Homo sapiens: one gene and its partner. The protein of the gene in region 2 interacts with the protein of the main gene of each other region in a pairwise test. Each region holds a gene or a part of one and is shown on either strand. Other genes may lie near its edges.

The links.
Region 1: the proteins of SKAP2 (region 2) and FRK interact in a protein complementation assay, tested with the Homo sapiens proteins (one study listed by BioGRID).

Annotation. Positions count from the first base shown.
Region 1 is NC_000006.12:115,935,232-115,939,151, forward strand, and holds part of FRK (tyrosine-protein kinase FRK), read right to left. Parts: 3' UTR 1-3,920. UniProt on the Homo sapiens protein: Non-receptor tyrosine-protein kinase that negatively regulates cell proliferation.
Region 2 is NC_000007.14:26,668,991-26,672,910, reverse strand, and holds part of SKAP2 (src kinase-associated phosphoprotein 2), read left to right. Parts: intron 1-2,718; coding exon 2,719-2,811; 3' UTR 2,812-2,820; intron 2,821-3,254; 3' UTR 3,255-3,920. UniProt on the Homo sapiens protein: May be involved in B-cell and macrophage adhesion processes. In B-cells, may act by coupling the B-cell receptor (BCR) to integrin activation. May play a role in src signaling pathway.

The DNA of each region.
Region 1 (3,920 bases), on a different chromosome or scaffold from region 2:
GAAGCACAAGGGGTCAGGGAACTACCTCCTCTACCCAAGGGAAGCCATGAGGGACTGTACCTGAGGAACGGTGCACTCCAGCCCAGATACTGCACTTTTCCCATGGTCTTTGAAACCTGCAGACCAGGAGATTCCCTCCGGTGCCTACGCCACTGGGGCCCTGGGTGTCAAGCACAAAACTGGGCAGCCATTTGGGCAGACACTGAACTAGCTGCAGGAGTTTTATTTTCCATACCCCAGTGGTGCCTGGAATGCCAGCAAGGCAGAACCATTCACTCCCCTGGAAGGGGGGCTGAAGCCAGGGAGCCAAGTGGTCTAGCTTGGCGGGTCCCACCCCCACGGAGCCCAGCAAGCTAAGATTCACTGGCTTGAAATCCTCATTGCAAGCACAGCAGTCTGAGGTCGACCTGGGACACTCGAGCTTGGAGGGAGGAGGGCCGTCTGCCATTGCTGAAGCTTGAGTAGGCATTTTACCCTCACAGTCTAAACAAAGCTGCCTGGGAGTTCGAATTGGGTAGAGCCCACCACCTCAGCTCAGCAAGGCCACTCTGGCCAGACTGCCTCTCTAGATTCCTCCTCTCTGGGCAGGGCAACTCTAAAAAAAAGGCAGTCAGGGACTAATAGATAAAACCCCATCTCCCTGGGACAGAGCACCTGTGGGAAGGGGTGGATATGGGAGCAGCTTCAGCAGACTTAAATATCTCTGCCGGACAGCTCTGAAGAGAGTAGTGGATTTCCCAGCACAGTGCTCGAGCTCTGGTAAGAGTCAGACTGCCTCCTCAAGTGGGTCCCTGACCCTCGTTTATCCTGATTGGGAGATATCTCCCAGTAGGGGCCAACAGACACCTCATACAGGAGAGCTCTGGCTGGCATCCAGTGGGTGCCCCTCTGGGACGAAGCTTCCAGAGGAAAGAACAGGCAGCAATCTTTGCTGTTCTGCAGCCTCCACTCGTGACACCAAGGCAAACAGCATCTGGAGTGGACCTCCAGCAAACTCCAGCAGACCTGCAGCAGAGGGCACTAACTCTTAGAAGGAAAACTAACAAACAGAAAGGAATAGTATGTCCACTCAGAGACCCCATCCGAACATCAGCAGGATCAAAGACCAAAAGTAGATAAATCCAGGAAGATGAGGAGAAACCAGCGCAAAACAGCTGAAAATTCAAAAAAACAGAATGCCTCTTCTCCTCCAAAGGATCACAACTCCTTGCCAGCAAGGGAATAAAACTGGATGGAGAATGAGTTTGACGGATGGATAGAAGTAGGCCTCAGAAGGTGGGTAATAACAAACTCCTCCAAGCTAAAGGAGCATGTTCTAACCCAATGCAAGGAAGTTAAGAACACTGTAAAAAGATTAGAGGAATTGCTAACTAGAATAACAAGTATAGAGAAGCACATAAATGACCTGATGGAGCTGAAAAATACAGCATGAGAACTTCATGAAGCATACACAATTATCAATAGCCAAGTCGATAAAGCACAAGAAAGGATATCAAAGATTGAAGATCAACTTAATGAAATAAAGGAGAAGACAAGATTAGAGAAAAAAGAGTGAAAAGGAACTAACAAAGCCTCCAAGAAATATGGGATTATGTGAAAACACCAAGTCTACGTTTGATTGGTGTACCTGAAAGTGACGGGGAGAATGGAACCAAGTTGGAAAACACTCCTCAGGATATTATCCAGGAGAACATCCCCAACCTAGCAAGACAGGTCAACATTCAAATTAAGGAAATACAGAGAACGCCACAAAGATACTCCTCGAGCAGAGCAACCCCAAGACATATAATCGTCATATTCACCAAGGTTGAAATGAAGGAAAAAATGTTAAGGGCAGCCAGAGAGAAAGGTCAGGTTAGCCACAAAGGGAAGCCCATCAGACTAACAGAGGATCTCTCTGCAGACACCTTACAAGCCAGAATAGAGTAGGGGCCAATATTCAACATTCTTAAAGAAAAGAATTTTCAACCCAGAATTTCATATCCAACCAAACTCAGTTTCATAAGCGAAGGAGAAATAAAATCCTTTACAGACAAGCAAATGCTGAGAGATTTTGTTACCACCAGGCCTGCCCTAAAAGAGCTCCTGAAGGAAGCACTAAACATAGAGAGGAACAATCAATACCAGCCACTGCAAAAACATACCAAATTGTAAAGATCATCGAGGATACGAAGAACCTGCATCAACTTTCGGGCAAAATAACCAGCTAGCATCATATGACAGAATCAAATTCACACATAACAATACTAACCTTAAATGTAAACAGGCTGAATGCCCCAAGTAAAAGACAGAATGGCAAATTGGATAAAGACTCAAGACCCATCAGTGTGCTGTATTCAGGAGACCCATCTCACATGCAAAGAGACACACAGGCTCAAGATAAAGGGATGGAGGAATATTTACGAAGCAAACGGAAAGCAGAAAAAAAAAGCAGGGGTTGCAATCCTAGTCTCTGATAAAACAGACTTTAAATCAACAAAGATCAAAAGAGACAAAGAAGGGCATTACATAATGGTAAACAGATCAATGCAACAAGAATAGCTAACTATCCTAAATATATATACACCCAATACAGAAGCACCCAGATTCATAAAGCAAGTTCTTAGAGAACTACAAAGAGACTTAGACTCCCACACAATAATAGTGGGAAATTTTAACAGCCTGCTGTCAATATTAGACAGATAAATGAGACAGAAAATTAACAAAGATATTCAGAACTTGAACTCAGCTCTGGACCAAGTGGACCTAACAGACATCTACAGAATTCTCTACCCCAAATCAACAGAATATACATTCTTCTCAGCACCTCATCGCACTTATTCTAAAAGTGATCACATAATTGGAAGTAAAACACTCCTCAGCAAATGCAAAAGAACGGAAGTCATAACAAACAGTCTCTAAGACCACAGTGCAATCAAATTAGAACTCAGGATTAAAACTGACAGAAAACCTAACAACTACTTGGAAACTGAACAACCTGCTCCTGAATGACTACTGGGTAAATAATAAAATTAAGGTAGAAATAAAGTTGTTCATTGAAACCAATGAGAACAAAAACACAACATACCAGAATCTCTGGGACACATTTAAAGCAGTGTGTAGAGGGAAATTTATAGCACCAACTGCCCACAAGAGGAATCAGGAAAGAACTAAAATCTATACCCTAATATCACAATTAAAAGTACTAGAGAAGCAAGAGCAAACAAATTCAAAAGCTAGCAGAAGACAAGAAATAACTAAGATCAGAACAGAACTGAAGGTGATAGAGACATGAAAAACCTTTCAAAAAATCAATGAATCCAGGATCTGATTTTTTGAAAAGATCAACAAAATAGAATGCTAGCCAGACTAATAAAGAAGAAAAGAGAGCAGAATCAAATAGACACAATAAAAAATGATAAAGCGGAGATCACCACTGATCCCACAGAAATACAAAATACCATCAGAGATTACTATAAATACCTCTAAGCAAATAAACTAGAAAATCTAGAAGAAATGGGTAAATTCCTGCAAACATACACCCTCCCAAGTCTAAACCAGGAAGAAGATGAATCCCTAAATAGACCAATAACAAGTTCTGAAATTGAGGCAGTAATTAATAGCCTACCAACCAAAAAAAGTCCAGGACCAGATAGATTCACAGCCGAATTCTACCAGAGGTACAAAGAGGTACAAAGCTAGTACTATTCTTTCTGAAACTATTCCAAACAATAGGAAAAGAGGGACTCCTCCCTAACTCATTTTATGAGGCCAGCATCATCCTGAAACCAAAACCTGGCAGAGACACAACAAAAAAAAAAAAAGAGAGAAAATTTCAGGCCAGTATCCCTGACGAACATCCATGCAAAAATCCTCAATAAAATACTGGCAAACTGAGTGCAGCAGCACATCAAAAAGCTTATCCACCACGATCAAGTTGG
Region 2 (3,920 bases):
GAAACCTTGTACAATATTGAATGTTCAGGCCAAAGTTTAGAATACTGTACTCCAAGAAGCATTTTCATTCCAATTTATAGGCTGCAAATGGTTTAATTGGGATTCATGTTGCTCAGGAGGCTCATACAGAGAATAGTAATGATAAAAGTAAAAAGCTCCTGTATTTGCAGTCTTGTCAACACTCTAATGGCTGCAGTGTAAATCCATAAATTTGCCTCCTGTATTTTTACCTCACTATATTTGATCATAATGCATTAATTTCAAACAGGAATATAATTTGCAATTCTTTACAAATATAAGGTAATATTCTGGTTTTTAGTTTTACCTTTTCTGATTTAAATCTGATATTTTAGAGTATTTTTATCAAGTGTATGTTTCCTATGTTTTTCAATTATTTTAAATTAAGTGAAGCATTTAAGATTATTTTAGTCTAAACCTTTTTTCTCCCTAGAGTATAACTTTTAAGGGATTTGTTTATAGTTGATTAAGCTCCTCCCTGCTGTTTACCACTATGCTTTCTAGTTAATAAATCTTCCTGTTCTACCATAGCACAGAATTCTCTCAACTGTGAAGTCTGCCCTTGTTGATGTGATTTCTTGGGAACTAATTTCTTAAATTTGGGTGTGAGTAACTTTTTGAAAATGATAACATGCCTTTAGTTGATAGCATAGACTATGACCAAAGTAGAATATTATAAAGTAATAACTTTCTGTCTTGTAATTTGAATCTAAGCATTGACCCCCAGATTGAGGGCCATTCTCTGGAAGCAAGTTTATGCCAATAATATGTCTTCTCACTGAATGTTTTCTATGTCTGTCACTGGGGAGCAGGGGGCTAGTTCCTTTTCTCATTCCAAATAATCAGTTTCAAAAATCTTATATTGGCATTGAATAAGAGCTTTAACACTCAGACCTACCCTGTTAATTATCCACTTTGAAATCTTACAGTAGTCTGTGGAACGTTAAGTACGTGTGTTTTTTTAAGCATTAGGCTTTAATTGTATTCATTGCCTTAAAAATAGAAAAGGGTAGTTTTATTAGGTACCTATTAAGATATAATCGTTGCTAATCATGACTTTCAGTAAGTTAGTATTTTCTTCTGATAAATATGTCCTACATAGATTATAGCCATCATTGGGTTCTGGGCATCAGAGTATCCTCGTTCCTTATACAGCTTCGTCCACTAAGTTCACACTATCAATGAACTTTAAAAGTTTAAAACTTAAAATCTTGAGTTTACTGCCTCACAAGCCAGAGCTGTGCCCTCAATAGAATAACAATAGCAGGAGTGGTCTTTTCTCCCCTCTCCCCCTCCACTTTGTTCTTCCAATAAACCTAATCCTGATACTGCCCACTGTTTGAAAAAGTGCCTATGGATTTTATCCTATAATCTCTCTATTGATAGACTACATATCAATACATACACGCTAATGTAATGCTACATTTGTATTAAAGAATTGCATAATTTTCCTTTCTGATGGTCAATAGCATACTAATCAATACAAATATTAAGTCTGTACTAGTATTAACATTCCCTCCCCACATATAACTCAATATACATATGCACATTTATCTATGACTCAGATGCTGGAAAATCATAACCTATTAAATTACTTTTGGGATTGATTTTGAAAATTTATCTTATATGAAAAATTAAATTTGAGCACTACAATGCTTGTGAAGAGTATTGCTTTTGGAAGATATTATTCTTGAAACTTGAAATTCATTTTACTTTGTTTGTATCTCACTACACATAAATAAATTTGAGATAAAAATACATTAGTCAATCTGGCAGACATATGAGACCGGTTATGGAGTATTCACAATGCCTAAAGCAGTGGTGTATCTGTCAAAGGAGGAAAAAGTGGGAGAAAAGGAGGTATAGGTTTGTTTATCTCAAGTTGCAAAGTAAATGCAAAAGTGACTCATCGACCACTCTGTTTTAGAGGTAGATTAATATTTTGCCTTTATACCTTGAGATACTTTTATTTCCTATTGATCTTCCACTATAAGGGTGACTCTAACAGCACCTTTAAATTCCTTCTACCTATTCTTTATCTAAGGTAGTTTATGGTCAATAATAAAGGAATAATAAATGCCTTAGGGAAACTATTTTAAAGGAACCTATTTGTGAATTATTTTTTAAGCAGTTTTTTGGTATTATTAGTGTTTCCGTATTCTCTAATTTATCTGTTAAAGTGTGTATATTAGATTTTCTTAAGAAGGGGCACACATCTATCAACATTCTAAATCATTTTAGGTCATATAAGTTTAAGAAATAAGTAGTTTATTGTAAAAAAAATTATTTTATCCTTGCTAGATGATAAGCTTCTTGAAGGCAAATATAATAGCTTAAGGATCCTGGCTTTAACCTTCTATAGCCTCTTACACATGAAAGGTATCCCCAGGCTCTGTGGAGAGAGAGAGTGTCCCCGAGAGAAGGCTTCCTGAGGTAGTTTCATTTTCTAGGTTTTCATCATGAGTGATTGTTTCTGTGTTCTGTGCCCAATAATAAACAGGCTTTGTGTTATACCTTAATTTAAATCGTTGCCTAACAGCATTTTAAAGTGTCCAGAAACAAAAAGATGAAAATGTTTACATTTGCAGCTCAAGCTCTTTTAACTTTATAAATAGAAATAACATTTCTAAGAAGTTGCATACAAACGACATTGTACTTACACCAGTCTAAAGGTTAATATTGCATATTGTTTTCAATTAGGAATACAATAGATATGGCTGGTGGGTAGGAGAAATGAAGGGAGCCATTGGCTTGGTGCCTAAAGCCTACATAATGGAGATGTATGATATTTGAGAGTCCTGGGTAAGTACATTTTAATCCAATATTCTGTAATAGCTCATATGTTCTCTTGGTCTCTTCGTTATGAGTCTTTGCCTTTTTAAAAGTCTTTAGAGTTTTCTGATAACACAAAGATTGTGCCCCGAAATCTTTTTTGTTTTGTTTGATCTGGTTTAATTTTTAAAATAAGAATTTTTAAAATAAAAACTTTATGGAATTTACTTTGGAAATGAATAGATTATTTAGAGAAAGTTCTTTTGATAGTAACCAGCTGTTTTCCCAAACTTCCTCCTTTTCAGTAAAATACCACTTTTTATGGCCTTTCTGAAGAGTTGAATTGACAAAATGTTGAGTAAAAATACATTTTTCCTTGGCTAAAAGTGTAATTTTTTTAAGCAGGAAAAATCAAGTTTCAGCTGAATCAAAAATTAAAATGCAGCTTTCCCTTTCTCCTGCAGAAAAGGAAAATTCTTCTGCTTGTCTGCAAATGCTTTGGATTTAGAAGCGTCATGAAAGCACGAGTGACAGCTCCTAACCTCTCCTTGTTTTATTAAACATTACTTATCTTTGACTGTTATTTTATGCAGTCGCTCATTAAAATATTCCTCTGATGTGAAATTAAATGAAGGATATTAATGTAAATTAGATGCAACCAGTTAAGTTATACCTGTTGCTATTTTGCAAAGAAATAATTATAGTTTTTATTTACCCATTTGATTTGTGTGAAGAATTCATCACTATTTTATACGTAACATATAGTCTACTATAGCATAGTATGCTACTATTGCTACTTCTGGTGTGATTTGTAATGTTTCTTAATCATTGGACATCAATTATTTTTAGAGAGTAATGTATAATTTCATAGCATTTTAAATTTAGTGTATCATGCGAGTTTTTTTTGGTAGATGCTGAAGAATGTGGTTGCTAAACAAAGAATGCTAAAGAATGTTCAAACTTTATAGATAACTTTATTGTTATTATTTATTTTCACACATTTAATTCCTATTAAGTACAGCCGCAAGAAAGAAAAAATGATGAAGTTGCAAATGGCAGTGTGCTGTCACCTGCAACAGAAGTGCGTACCAGAAGTATGACTCATGCAAAGCATTTTACCGTACAAATAT